Homo sapiens: one gene and its partners. The protein of the gene in region 1 purifies or fractionates together with the protein of each later gene. This does not show direct contact. Each region holds a gene or a part of one and is shown on either strand. Other genes may lie near its edges.

Region 1 (3,567 bases):
GCCAGGGATGCTGGCAAACATCCAGCACTGCACAGGACAACGAGGGTGGTGAGACTGAAATATGTGTGGTGGAGCTTCTCAACCTTGGCCCCACTGACATTTGGATGACTTTGTTCTGGCTACAAAGAATGATCTGGCTCAAATGTCAGTGCGGCCAAGGTTGAGAAACTCCACCACAGATATTTCAGTCCCACTACCTCCTGCCCACAAGGGTTTGCAAATCCTCCCTCCGTACCCCTTGTCTTCCACTGTGCTCCTCCACGACCTCCCCTTGTCGACCTCCCTCGTCAGGCAGTGTACATCCTCCTGTTCCCTTCCCGCCCCTGAGTTGGAGATGAGGAAATAGGTCTTGACCATTTGATCTAGATCAGCATTTTTCAAAGTGCTCTCTATAGAATACTAGTTCCTCAGTATAATATAGAGAGAAAAATGTCCCCACTCCAGTAAAACAGGGACACACTGGGTTTGGCAAAATTAAACAGGTAAATGATGGCTGCAGGACTTGTCAGAGCCTTTAATATGCCCGTCTGTGTTATCTGCTGTTAAGAGGCAGCACCTCCCAAGCTGATCTGACCACACTGATATTAGGGTAGGGATGTAGGACCAGGCAATCGCTCCAGTCTCACCCAAGCTTGCGCATTTGGTCTGTACTCTGGGGCCCTTGGCCTCCTAGAAAGACCTCAAAACGAGAGCTTCAAACTACCCCCAGGGTGCGCATCTCTCTGAGACCCTCCAGTGCCAGGGAAATGGCCCGGCCCCAGTCCCCACGTTCCTGCCCAGCCTCAGGCTCTGGGAAGACGACCCCGCCCTCCTCCAGCAGCCCCTCTGACCTATGCCCCCCTCCAGGACCTGGACTACCTGTCCGAAGGCCTCGAAGGCCGATCCCAAAGCCCCGTGGCCCTGCTCTTTGATGCCCTTCTACGCCCAGACACAGACTTTGGGGGAAACATGAAGTCGGTCCTCACCTGGAAGCACCGGAAGGAGCACGCCATCCCCCACGTGGTTCTGGGCCGGAACCTCCCCGGGGGAGCCTGGCACGTGAGTGGGGCAGCGAGGGCATGGCTTGTGGGGGGCTCTCTCCCTCGTTCTCCCCACTTGGGGCTGGGACTCTGGCATCTCCCTTTCCTCATTCTCCACCCCGCAACCCTGCCTCTCCCTCCTCCCTCTACCCAGCCCCAGCAAAGGCCTCCCATGCCCTCTAGCCCCAAATGGGTTCAGGCGAGCAGAGGCCTGGACCAAAGGGTTCCTTTCCCTGCAGTCCATCGAAGGCTCCATGGTGATCCTGAGCCAAGGCCAGTGGATGGGGCTCCCGGACCTGGAGGTCAAGGACTGGATGCAGAAGAAGCGAAGGTGAGGCCGCCCCGGAACGCCTTGGGGGACACGGAAGGTTGGGCCTGTGAACCCAGAAAATCTGAGACAGGTCTCAGTTAATTTAGAAAGTTTATTTTTCCAAGGTTGAGGACGCGCCCGTGACAGCCTCAGGAAGTCCTAATGACATGTGCCCAAGGTGATCCGGCACAGCTTGGTTTTATACATTTTAGGGAGACATGAGACATCAATCAATATTTGTAAGAAGTACATTGGTTCGGTCTGGAAAGCTGGGCCAGCTTGAAGCAAAGGCAGGAAGTGGGGAGGGGGCTTCCAGGTCGCAGGTAGGTGAGAGATAAACAGTTGCATTCTTTTGAGGTTCTGATGAGCCTCTCCAAATGAGGCGATCAGATACGCATCTATCTCAGGGAGCAGAGGGGTGACTTGGAATGGAATGGGAGGCAGGGTGGCCCTCAGCAGTTCTCAGCTTGACTTTTCCCTTTAGCTTAGTGATTTGGGGGATTTCACAGGCCCCCCACAGTGAGCCCGTGAGCCAGAGGTACAGGGGCTTCAGAGTGCATCTGGTCTGTCTTCCTCTTCTTCCAGAGGGGGAAACTGAGGCTCAGATAGGGAAAGGACTTGTCCACCCCACATGAGTGGGGGTGAGCAGCAGAGCTGGGCTCACCCGAGGACCCCCTGTCCCGTGCAAGCAGCAGACCGCCCTGTCACATGGCCCCCAACTGGGCCTCCCCATAGTGCCCCAGCCTCTAAGGAGGGGGTAACACCTGGCCCCTGAGCCCCACGCCCTGCCCCGTGCCTCTGGCACAGGTCCCCCAGTCCTTGTGGTCTCCCTTCAGCCCTTTCCTCTATTCTGAGCCTGGCCTAGAACAATCTTTCTGGGTCAGCTAATAGGGTGACTTTCTTTTTTCTTTTCTTTTTTTTTTTTTTAATGCTTTTGCTACAGGTGAGTTTCATCCTTAACCATGAGCCCCCAAGTTGGGTAAATTAACTCACCTAAGGTCATGCAGGTTATTGGAAATGCAGAAGGAAAACAGCTCACCCCAAACCCACACTTCTCCACGCCCTTTCACTCCTGGGGTATTTTTTCCCCATCTGGCTTCCTGCCCCATCATGGCCACCCTAGAGAAAAGGTTTGTGAACCCTGAATATTTGAGATGGGTCTCAGTTAATTTAGGAAGTTTTGTTTGTTTATTTGTTGTTTGTTTTTAATGAAGTCTCCCTCTGTCGCCCAGGCTGGAGTGCAGTGGCGCGATCTCAGCTCACTGCAAGCTCCGCCTCCCAGGTTCAAGCCATTCTCCTGCCCCAGCCTCCCGAGTAGCTGGGACTACAGGTGCCCACCACCACACCCGGCTAATTATTTTTTGTATTTTTAGTAGAGACGGGGTTTCACCGTGTTAGCCAGGATGGTCTCGATCTCCTGATCTCGTGATCCGCCCACCTCGGCCTCCCAAAGTGCTGGGATTACAGGCGTGAGCCACCACGCCAGGCTAATTTAGGAAGTTTAATTGCCAAGGTTGAAGACGCACAACCATGACACAGCCTCAGGAGGTCCTGATAACATGTACACATGGTGGTCGGGGCACAGCCTGGCTGTATACGTTAGGGAGACTTGAGACATCAATCACTATATGTAAGATGGACATTGGTTCCGTCCAGAGGCGGGACAACTCCAGCAGGGAGGGGTGTTTCCAGGTCTCAGACAGGTGAGAGACAAACGGTTGCATTCTTTCGAGTTTCTTATAAGCCTTTCCAAAGGAGGCAATCAGGTGTGCATTTATCTCAGTGGGCAGAGGGAAGACTTTGAGTAGGACGGGAGGCAGCTTTGCCCTAGGCAGTTCCCTGCTTGACTTTTCCTTTAACTTAGTGATTTGGGGGCCCCAAGATTGATTTGCCTCTCACAGTTTCAATCACTGAATAAAGGAGTTCTAGTCCCTGCTCCTCCTGGGGTGCATCCACTCAATGAGAAGCTGCCCCAGCGCAGATACCTGGGTGCAGTCTGCCTCTCGGGAAGCCCTGCTTCCTCCGCCCCCAGGGCTGTGACCAGGCCTGTGTCCCCAACGGCAGGCACTCCAGGCGTCCCCCTCCAGGCCTCACTATCTCTTTGATGCGAAGACTCTTCTGCATGTTTGGCAGGAAGACTTCCAGGTTTGTGTAGCTACATGTTAGTAGGCAGCCAGAAACTTACATTTCGCTTGTAAGCACAGCCTTTTATAGGCTCATTTTGCATTTTCACATTGT
Region 2 (3,567 bases), on another chromosome or scaffold:
CAGGAAACAGATATTTGTGCATGGGGTATAGATTATTTACATTACAAACAGAATATGTATAGTTTCTTTTATTAAATACCAAAGTTACGAGTTTCCTAGCCTAAATTGTATAATTCAGCACTCAGTAATCAACTTTCTCTCTGAATAAAGCAAAATAAAATACATAGCAAATAGTACACCTAACACGCACAAGTAGTTCACTTATATTCACTAAAGAAAACTGTGATATCCTCCAGTTTACATTCATGAATTCTTTCTGTCAGTAGTAGTAGTAGTAGTAGTAGTAGTAGTAGTAGTAGCAGTAGTAGCTGCTGCTGTTGTTGTAGCAACGGTATTTTCTTCAACAACGTGAAATGATTCTTTAGCATTTCATCATTTAGAGAAAAGAATACATACTACACAGTGGTTCTGAATTATACATTAAATAAGACCAATTTGGCCAGTTTTTTATAAATATGATTTTAAAATGTGCTCAAATTTTTTGTAGACCATTAATATTATTCATATTTAAAATGTTAGTTTATCTTCATGAAGTAAAATGATTAAGTAGCATTGTCTAAAGTTTACTGTAATACAATATACTATATCATGTGTGCTATATGCACAAGTCCACTACAGCAAGATGTCAACTGTATTATCATAGGATTCAAGGTAGAATGATATGCTACACTGTACTTCAAAGCACATCGAAGTCAGAAAAACAACAGTGTAGTTCATTTATAAAGGGGATAGATGATGATTACAATCCAATTGGTTAACTTGAAAGTCAGTTTATATAACACCAGGATAGTGTCAACACCACATACTTCATTTTCAAAGGCTTAACTATGACCTATTTATAAGATTACACCAACAGTATAAAGCCTTTGGAAAAAAAAAAAGTTTCACTTGTACTAAATTTCCATGATGTAAAATTTACAGAAGCCTTATAAAAACCTTTATTTCTAAATGAGGCCACTTATTATGGATAATATACAGATCTGCCTGCACACATTATCTGAGATATAATTCTTCTATAAAAACTTTGGCACCAACTATATCAAGAATTCATATATTAGCACAAATGTATTTTGCTCTGGCACCAAACCACTATGTTTACATTTTAGTAACTACAGTGAGTCAAATGAATGGAGTCCTTTGGTTTTACGGAATAACAAGCTTTTATAATAAGTTTTTGTTGTTTTTCTTTCATTAGAAAAAGCCTATCCTTCAGGATCTGATGTTTAAAAATACTAACATTGCTTGTCATTATACTATTATATATGTATACTGATTGTTGGTAATGACTCCCCAAACCATAATTGTATGAAACAAGAAAAAAAATATTAAAGTAACTTTATTTGAAAGGAATTTTAGAAGCTTGTGTGCAGAGAAGTTGTGAGGACCTGGTGGACACCAATTATATGCTTAAATAAACACTTGAACACTACTGCAAACACATAGTATGAATATTGTGGACCTGTGAATGGTTTTTTAAATCTCACTTCCCCTAAAAATGGGGATTTAATATTACTTAATATTCAAGTAATTTAGCAGACAACGATGCCTTTGATAAGAATAGGAAAAAAGCCACACATTTAATTTCATCTTCATCCAGTTTGGCCTAGGAACACCACAAATCTTACAGGCCAGTTGATGTTCGCTTTTTCATGCTCCGTCGCTGGGCTAAGCTTGAAGCAGCTACAGGCTCTAGGACTGGTTGAAAGGTCTTGTGAGTCAGGGCAGAGTATGTTGCAACCATTGCTCCCTAAAGTAATGAGAAAATGCCACAAACTAAGTACAAATTCTGGAGTTAAAAAAAAAAAAAACTTTCACATGATATCATGAGACATATATCTAGAACAAAATGTTTTCCTAGGAAAATAATTGAATATATTAGATCTGTGCACTGATGAATCAATATTACTTGTATGTTTTTCATTTCAATAACTATGCTTTTTACAAAAAATTGTTAAAACACTAACATTTAAAACCTTGATTCAATGTATATGGATATAGGAATGGTTTCACGAACAGTTATAAATTAAGAACTAACAGCAATCTTTTATTTCAATATGAAACTTGCATTTAGCCCAATCCTAATTCCAGCATCTCTCAAAAGCACGGCAGGTACAATCAAGAAATTTTTATTGTTTCATCTGAAAGGCAGTAGTAAAGTAAGCTAAGAAAAGTACATGGTTGTTAATTTAAAAAAATCTATCTTTAAAAAATAAAGATATTTTAAGGAATTATTTAAGTGTCATCAGCAAGTGGCACACAATGGGTTTATTAGGTATCTGATATCTCGAAGGCACATAAAAGTATGTTTGTTTTACCTTAACAACATGTGACACATCATTTCTCTTTGGCTGATCATTTGGCAACTGGTCTCTGTGAGTTATCCATGAGTGCTTTAATATTTGTTCAGCAGTATACCGCTGATGTGGGTCCATATGAAGCATATGGGAAAGCAAATCCTAAATTAAAAAAAATGTGTGTGTATATATATATACATGTATACATACATAATTTTACATTTGCTGAAAATGTGACAGCATCAATAGCCTTGCAATCTGTTTATTTCACCTACATTTATGCAAAGTAAAATCTATACTCTACACAGTTAACTCTCAAGAGAATCTTGAGAGATATTTTTCAATATATACTAAATCCTTATACACCACTTTTAAATCGGAAGATGCCAAATCTGTGGAATTGGATGTGTGATTAGTGACGGAGGAGGAAAATGTAAAATGGCAGAAGTTATCCTGGAATATGCTAAATGTTCAGCAGGAGACAGGAGCTATTGAACTTTGCTGTTAAGCTGGGCCCCAAGGTGTAAGGGTATGTGTACACAGATAAAACATAGAAGGGAGGGTCCCATGTAGTTAATCCATTCAATAAATGGTGGCTTACTATATAACATATTAAGAAAGCAAACCATAAATCCAATGTTAGCAAGTGGCTTCTATCATAGTAGTCCCCAGTGCATTTTAAGTTTTTCATCAAAGTAAGTGTACGTTTGCTTATGTTATCTCTGTTGCAATTAAAAAAGTTGTAAATTTAATATAACCTCACAGGAAAAGTTTTCAATATATTAAGAGATGTAATACTTTTAAATAAACTGTCTCTCCCAAGTATCTTTTAGAGAAATGAGAAGTAAACTCCTTAATAAGCATTTTCGGAGAATCTGGCAAGATGGCCGAATAACAGCTCCGGTCAGCAGCTCCCAGTGAGACCAAAGCAGAAGGTGGGTGATTTCTCCATTTACAACTGAGGTACCCAGTTCGTCTCACTGGGACTGGTTAGCCAGTGGGTCCAACTCACGGAGGGTGAGCAGAAGTAGGGTGGGGCATCGCCCAACATGAGAAGTGCAAGGAGCCAGGGGACCTCTCTCCCTCAGCCAAGCAAAGCTGTGAGGGACTGTGCTACCCAGCCCAGATACTACACTTTTCCCATGGTTTTTGCAATCCACAAATCAGGAGATTCCCTGGTGTGCCTACACCACCAGGGTCCTGGGTTTCAAGGATAAAACTGGGAGACAATTTGGGCAGACAGTGAGCTAGCTGCAGTTTTTTTTTTTTTTTT
Region 3 (3,567 bases), on another chromosome or scaffold:
TCAGATATGCCAGGCACACTTTAATATGAGAGCCTTTGTACTTTTAGTCCTGGAATACTATTCCTCTAGGTATCTATTTGGCTTACTCCCCCACTTCCTTCATGTCTTGGCATAAGTGAAGCCTGCCTAAACCACCCGATTTTATTTTATTTTATTATTTTTTGGCACAGTCTCACTCTGTTGCCTGGGCTGGAGTACAATGGCATGATCATGGCTCACTGCAGCCTGCAACCTCCCAGGCTCGAGTGATCCTGCTGTCTCAGCCTCCTGAGTAGCTGAGACTACAAGTGCATGCCACCATGCCTGGCTAATTTTTAAAAACTTTTTTGTAGAGATGGGGTCTCACTATATTGCCCAGGCTGGCCTGAAACTCCTGGGCTCAAGCCATGCTCCTGTCTCAGCCTCTTAAATTGCTGGGACTACTGGCATGGGTCACCATGCCTGGCCCCTTCCTATTTTAAACTGCATTTCTGATTCTCCTTAACCTGACATATTTGCCCATGTATATCATCTAAGATACTCGAATTTACTTGTGTTTATTTAATCTGTTTCTCCTCATTAGAATGTAAGCTCCATGAGGGCAGGAATTTTTAACTTTTTGTTCAGTGATATATCAGTGCTGGCTGGGCGCGGTGGCTCACGCCTGTAATCCCAGCACTTTGGAAGGCCGAGGCAGGCAGATCACTTCAGGTCGGAAGTTTGAGACCAGGCTGGCCAACATGGTGAAACCCTGTCTCTACTAAAAATATAAAAATTAGCCAGGTGTGGTGGCCCGTGCCAGTAATCCAAGCTACCCAGGAGGCTGAGGCAGGAGAATTGCTTGAACCTAGGAGGCAGAGGTTGCATTGAGCCGAGATTGTGCCTCTGCACTCCAGCCTGAGCAACAGAATGAGACTCTATGACTCTATATCCAAAATATATACATACATATATATATATATATATATATATATATAAAATTGCCTAATAGTACCTGGCACGTAGTGCTTAATAATAAATATTTACTGAATGAACGAATGAATTATAATCTGTAGACTTTAAGAATTTATGTAATTGGAACCTTTTTCTGTGGCTTGTTAATCTTATTCTGGATAGTTGAGTTTACTTGATAAATGGCATAAATATATAAGGAGAGTACTGTATCTTAATATTGCATGTATGGTAAGTAATAAATTGATTGTTAAACTGATTTTTATGGAACACTTTGGAGTTTAAGTCCTTTAATTATTTAGTATTTTAAAGTATAAAGTCTGTAGTTTTAAGTGTCTAACCTATTTTTTGTTGAGATCTGAAAACTTAATATAAGTGTGTCTGTTGGTATTGCTTGGTTAGAGAGCTAAAATATTTCTAATTGGGTTTATTTTGTATTTTGCCTATAGATACACTCTGTGCAGTTTTAGAGAGAGACACACTCAGTATTCGAGAAAGTCGACTTTTTGGAGCTGTTGTACGCTGGGCAGAAGCAGAATGTCAGAGACAACAATTACCTGTGACTTTTGGGAATAAACAAAAAGTTCTAGGAAAAGCACTTTCCTTAATCCGGTTCCCACTGATGACAATTGAGGAATTTGCAGCAGGTAAGGGTATAAATTCACCAAAATCTATTTGAAACTGTTTTAATAGTCTGTCAGGGCTGGGCCTGGTGGCTCACACCTATAATCCCAGCACTTTCGAGAGGCCAAGGCAGGTGGATCACTTGAGGACAGGAGTTCGACACCAGCCTTGTCAACATGGTAAAACCCCGTCTCTACTAAAAGTACAAAAAATTAGGCATGGTGGTGGGCACCTGTAATCTCAGCTACTCAGGAGGCTGAGGCAGGAGAATCGCTTGAACCCAGGAGACGGAGGTTGCAGTGAGCCGAGATCATGCCGTTGCATTCCAGCCCGGGCGACAGAGCGAGATTCCACGAGACTCCATCTCAAAAAAAAAAAAAAATTCTATCAGTCTCCCTGCGCCAGAGAGGAAAAGAAGCTTTTATTCAGTACTAATCACATGACAAACATATATGCGAGTGTATGATTTTAAGCCCTTCAAAATTATATTATCCACATTGTATAGGTTAGAGAAGTAAAGTTGGGAGAGGTTGAGTGCCTTACCCCAGGTTATGACAGATCTTTTTGGCTTTTTTTTTTTTTCTTTTTTTTCTTTTTTTGAGACAGAGTCTTCCTCTGTTACCCAGGCTGGAGTGCCGTGGCACAAACGCATTTCACTGAAGCCTCCACCTCCCAGGCTCAATCAATCCTCCCACCTCAGCCTCCCAAATAGCAGGGACTATAGGTGCACACTACCATGCTCAGCTAATTTTTTAATTTTTTTTATAGAGACAGGATTTCACCATCCTGTCAGGGCTGGTCTTGAACTCCTGGGCTCAAGCCTCCCAAAGTGCTGGGATTACAGGTGTAAGCCACCACGCCCAGCCTCTGTTTGACTCTTAAGGTCGATGCTTCTGATTAAAATCAGACAGATCTGTTTTGAGTCTCCATGACCACTTCTGACCTGTTTTCATTACCCAGGTCATAATTGACTATTATCTGCCTTTAAATCACGGCCAGATTGATTCAAAAGAAAGAAAAGTCTCATGGTTTTTTTTTTTTTTTTTTTTTTGAGACAGGGTCTCCCTCTGTTGCTCAGGCTGGAGTGCGGTCGTGCGATCTCAGCTCACCGCAACGTCCATCTCCTGGGTTCAAGCGATTCTCACACCTCAGCCTCCTGAGTAGCTGGGATTACAGGCGTGCACCGCCACAAACTAATTTTTGTATTTTTAGTAGAGACAGAGTTTCACCATATTTGTCAAGCTGGTCTTGAACTCCTGACCTCAGGTGATCTGCCCACCTCGGGCTCCCAAAGTGCTGGGATTATAGGCATGAGCCACTGTGCCTAGCTCTCATGATTTTTTAAAAAATAATTTCAACTTTTATTTTAAATTCGGGGTAACGTGCAGATTTGTTTCATGTGTATATTGTGTGATGCTGAAGTTTGAGGTACAGTTGATTGCATCACTTAGGCAGTGAGCATAGTGTCCAGTAGTTAGTTTTTTAACTCTTTTCCCCCTTCTGTCCCTTCCTCTTTTCCCCTTTTTAACAGTCCTCAGTGCTTATTGTTTCCATCTTTATGTCCATGTGTATCCAATGTTTAGCTTCCACAAGTGAGAACATACGGTATTTGGTTTACTGTTTCTGCATTAACTCACTTAAGATAATGGCTTCTAGCTGCATCCATGTTGCTGCGAAAGGCATGATTTTGTTCTTTTTTATGGCTTTATAGTATTCTGTGGTGTGTGTGTGTCCGTGTGTGTGTGTGTGTGTGTGTGTGTGTGTGTCACATTCTCTACCCAGTCTACCACTGATGGGCACCCAGGTTGAGTCAGTGTCGTTGCTGTGATGAACATATGAGTGCATGTGTCTTTTGGTGGAACATTTTCTTTTCTTTTGGATATATAACCAGTAATGGGATTGCTGGGTTGACTGGTAGTTCTATGTTTTTTGGTTTTTTTGGGAGGTTGTTTGTGGTTTTTTTTTTTTTTTTTGAGACAGAGCCTCACTCTGTCACCCAGGCTGGAGTACAGT
Region 4 (4,010 bases), on another chromosome or scaffold:
CCAGGGTTGCACTTCTCAAACTTGGCCCAAATAAACTATTTTTTTTTTCAAGATGGAGTTTTGCTCTGTCACCCAGGCTTGAGTGCAGTGGCGTGATCTCAGCTCACTGTAACCTCTGCCTCCCGGGTTCAAGGGATTCTCCTGCCTCAGCCTCCTGAGTAGCTGGGATTACAGGCGCATGCCACCATGCCTTGCTAATTTTATTTTTTGTAGAAACGGGCAAGGTGGGACTCACCACGTTGCCCAGGCTGGTCTCGAACTCCTGACCTGAAGCAATCCTCCTGCCGTGGCCTCCCAAAGCACTGGAATTACAGGCATGAGCTGGTGTGCCTGGCCCAACCTCTCCACTTACGTTAATTTTGCCTCCTTTCTTCCTTTTTTTTTTGAGACAGAGTCTGGCTCTGTTGCCCAGGCTGGAGTGTGCTGTGGCCCAATCTCGGCTCACTGCAACAACTGCCTCCCAGTTTCAAGCGATTCTCCTACCTCAGCCTCCCGTGTAGCTGGGATTACAGGTGCCTACCACCAGCCAGGGTAATTTTTGTGTTTTTAGTAGAGATGGGTTTTCACCATATTGGCCAGGCTGGTCTCGGGAACTCTTGACCTCAAGTGATCCACCCGCCTCGGCCTCCCGAAGTGCTGGGATTGCAGGCGTTAGCCATCGCGCCCGGCCCGTTTTCTCCCTTTGGGTCAGAAAAGTGATTGAATCCTGCCACTTCCCGGGTGCTGGGTGGGAACAGGGAAGAGGGGGATAATTGCGGTGCTGCTGTGACTTGGGTAGATGGCGGCAAGGCCTCTCAGAGGTGGCCTTGTTTGCAAAGATCTGAATTAGGCAGGGAGAGGAGCAGGCCTGGGGCAATCAGGGAGGGGCAGTGGCACACTGGGAGCAAGGCAATGTTCCGCGACCCACAGAGGCAGCGCAGTAGCTGTTCCAATCCTGGTCGGAAGACACCCCGGAAATGCCTCAGCAACCGCGCAGCCTTTGATGACCCCGCTGCCTTCCCGCCAATCCTGCATCCAATCAGAGAGCATCCCCACTACACGTGTTGAGCAACGGCCAATCAGAACTGGGATCCGGCCCTCGGCCTGCCTCCCAGGAACTCCGAGCCAATGGCGGCCTGGCACCGGCAGGCCAATCCTGTGCGGCGCGCGTGGGCAGGTCATTGCAGTTGGGCGCTCAGCAGCTGTGGCAGCCGGTTGAGGTCTGGAAGTAGCGTTGGGCTGAAGCAGCGGAGTTCGCCATGGTAAGACCCGGGTCACTCCCGCCCCGCAGATGCCCAGGCAGACGAAGTTGGCCTCGGGTGGACAGAGGGACGTTGTTGCGGGCCTGGGCGCTGAGAGGAGGCCAGAGAAGGACGCAGGGTCTAGTGCGGGACAGGAGGACACGGGATCGTTTCCTGGATCTGCAGGTCCCAGGGCAGGGACGGCGGCTTTTGTTTTAGATGAAGCTGCCGGCCTTTAGTGGACGGGGACCATTGACGGTATCCCGTCCCCCAGAGAGCAAATAGTGGCGTCGCCTCCTGAAGACAGGAGGGCGCTGCTCCCGCTTCACACGTCTTTGTGCTACTGGAAACAGCTGAGGAGCTGCAGGAGCCTTCGGTGACGGGGGTTGGGGCTGTGGACATTGGTCAGATGAGGAATTAAGGCTCAGACGCTGCTGCAACATTGCCTTGTTCACCTAAAGGCAACCGTTAGGCCAGGCGCGGCGGCTCACGCCTGGAATCCCAGCCCTTGGGGAGGTGGAGGCGGGCGGATCCCCTGATGTCTGGAGTTCAAGATCAGCCCGACCAACATGGCGAAACCCAGTCTCTACAAAAAAATACTAAAATTACCCGGGCATGGTGATGCGAGTCTGTGGTTCCAGCTACTCGGGAGGCTGAGGTGGGAGGATCAGCCGAGCCTGGAACTTTGAGGCTGCAGTGAGTCGTGATGGCGCCAGTGCACTCCAGCCTGGGCCACAGAGACCCTGCCTCAAAAAACCAAACAAAAAAAGCAGCCCATTAACATAACAGATTCCCAAGTCCCAAGTCTGAATAGCTGTGATTTGTCAGTTATCCTTTTTTTCCTTTCTTTTTCTTTTTTCTTTTCTTTTCTTTTTTTTTTTTTTTTGAGACAGCACTCAATAAATGCTCTGTTGCCCAGGCTGGAACACAGTTGCAAGATCACGGCTCCCTGCAGCCTTGAACCCCTGGCTTCCAGCAGTCCTCCCGCCTCAGCCTTCCGAGTAGCTGGTACTACAGGTGTGTGCCACCACACCTGGCTAATTTGTAAATTTTTCATAGGGACAGGGACTCACTATGTTACCCAGGCTGGTCTCAAACTGGTCCCAAGTGATCCTCTCACCTCAGCCTTCCAAAGTGCTGGGATTACAGGAATGAGCCACCACACCCAGCTTGGCAGAGTTTAAAGAAACCACCAAAGGACAGTGCAGTGTCCCAGCACTGATGATGTCTGGGAGCCATTACACCCGTAGGCTTCAAGGGGTAGAGAGAGGGCGTGGTTACAAGAAATTAGGAGGGTAGTTTTATGAAGAGGGCAGCCTGCCAAAAGTGTAGCCTTGAGAGGGATTCAGGTCACCCACAGCAGTTGAGCAGGAAGGGGCCAAGGAGGGAGTACCCTGGCACTGCTTTCCTCCAGCCCCCCAGTATCCCACTGCTGCCTGCCATTGACCAAACCAGCAAGAAGCCAGAGGGCGAGGAAGGCCTCTGATGCTGTTCTCAAGGGTCAGCCTTCGAGAGCACAGAGCAGGTGGTGAATGATGGACGGGGTAGAACTGGGGGGCAGAGAGAGGACACACACTGAGCACCTGGGCTTGGACCATGGTGACCTGGGACCTACTCTGTATTTCCTTACCCAACCCGACTACCTTATCCTTTGATCAGGACATAATCAAAAACTGCTACTTATTCTTCAGAGAATTACTGTGACGGGCTATAATGTGGGGTTGATTATTGACATTAAATGGCTTCCAAGTTTTAAAATAACCTAAGTTTTGTGTAGTGGCAAACAGGTTCTAGGGCTACTTCTAGAACTTACTAGCTAGTATGGTTTACAGCAATTAGTTTTCACAGCGATAAAGGGATCAGTCACTAACCCTCCTAGGAAATATCGATTGTGAAAGCGCCAGATACTGAAGCACTATATAAATATTAAATTAGAATATTTTGCATGCCATATAGTTTCAAGTTGCCTTGAAATGAATGGGTTCACATTTATGTTCCGGTTCACAGCGCGAGTGTATCTCTATCCACGTGGGGCAGGCGGGTGTCCAGATCGGCAATGCCTGCTGGGAACTGTACTGCCTTGAACATGGAATTCAGCCCGATGGTCAAATGCCAAGTGATAAAACCATTGGTGGCGGGGACGACTCCTTCAACACGTTCTTCAGTGAGACTGGAGCTGGCAAGCACGTGCCCAGAGCAGTGTTTGTGGACCTGGAGCCCACTGTGGTCGGTAGGTGCCTGGGCACTGGATGGCAGCTTTCCTGAGAGGGTGGGAGAGCATTGGTAAAGCCCCGTGTGGGCTCCTTTGAATCCTCCTGCTGAAAGGATGGGATAGACAGGCATATGCCCATGGCATTGTTAGGAGAGAAACTGAAAGGTTTGTGATGAAAGTGTCTGTGAGACTCGGCTCCTAATTTAGGAAAACCTGACCTACAGGGAAAAGCTGCTTTGCCAGCAGTAAGATGGGCTGTGAAGAGATTCCCTCATGGCTGCCTCAGCCCTGCTCAGGTGGCCCTGCCTGCAGGGTGCAGTGGCATTGGTTCCCTCCCGAATGCTGTGCATTCTCTTATGCTGGTGCACGAGAGTCTTGACCTGCATCTTAGGCATAGAAGGTAAGTACAGAACAGTCATTTGCTTCCTTCAGATTCGCAGCCTGAGGTAGTTTCCAAGGAGAGCTACAAAGAGGCAGCACCTTTCAGTGGCCCCCCAGGAGATGACAGCATCACCTGAAAGCCTGTGGGACCCAGGTCATCCAGGGTGCCCTGATGGGACTGCCCTGCAGAAGTCACA

Evidence for each region.
Region 2: the proteins of OSGIN1 (region 1) and RPS6KA6 purify together in Homo sapiens (affinity purification with mass spectrometry; 3 studies listed by BioGRID and IntAct, with this or other methods). This does not show direct contact.
Region 3: the proteins of OSGIN1 (region 1) and BTBD1 purify together in Homo sapiens (affinity purification with mass spectrometry; 3 studies listed by BioGRID and IntAct, with this or other methods). This does not show direct contact.
Region 4: the proteins of OSGIN1 (region 1) and TUBA3E purify together in Homo sapiens (affinity purification with mass spectrometry; one large-scale study listed by BioGRID and IntAct). This does not show direct contact.

What each region holds. Positions count from the first base shown.
Region 1 is NC_000016.10:83,959,723-83,963,289, forward strand, and holds part of OSGIN1 (oxidative stress-induced growth inhibitor 1), read left to right. Parts: intron 1-846; coding exon 847-1,038; intron 1,039-1,258; coding exon 1,259-1,350; intron 1,351-3,567. UniProt on the Homo sapiens protein: Monooxygenase catalytic activity. Involved in regulation of cytokinesis; promotes RHOA activity, probably acting locally at the midbody in late cytokinesis.
Region 2 is NC_000023.11:84,062,656-84,066,222, forward strand, and holds part of RPS6KA6 (ribosomal protein S6 kinase alpha-6), read right to left. Parts: intron 2,457-3,567; coding exon 2,316-2,456; intron 1,748-2,315; coding exon 1,622-1,747; 3' UTR 1-1,621. UniProt on the Homo sapiens protein: Constitutively active serine/threonine-protein kinase that exhibits growth-factor-independent kinase activity and that may participate in p53/TP53-dependent cell growth arrest signaling and play an inhibitory role during embryogenesis.
Region 3 is NC_000015.10:83,039,738-83,043,304, reverse strand, and holds part of BTBD1 (BTB/POZ domain-containing protein 1), read left to right. Parts: intron 1-1,379; coding exon 1,380-1,577; intron 1,578-3,567.
Region 4 is NC_000002.12:130,195,589-130,199,598, reverse strand, and holds the start of TUBA3E (tubulin alpha-3E chain), read left to right. Parts: upstream 1-1,159; 5' UTR 1,160-1,238; coding exon 1,239-1,241; intron 1,242-3,227; coding exon 3,228-3,450; intron 3,451-4,010. UniProt on the Homo sapiens protein: Tubulin is the major constituent of microtubules, a cylinder consisting of laterally associated linear protofilaments composed of alpha- and beta-tubulin heterodimers.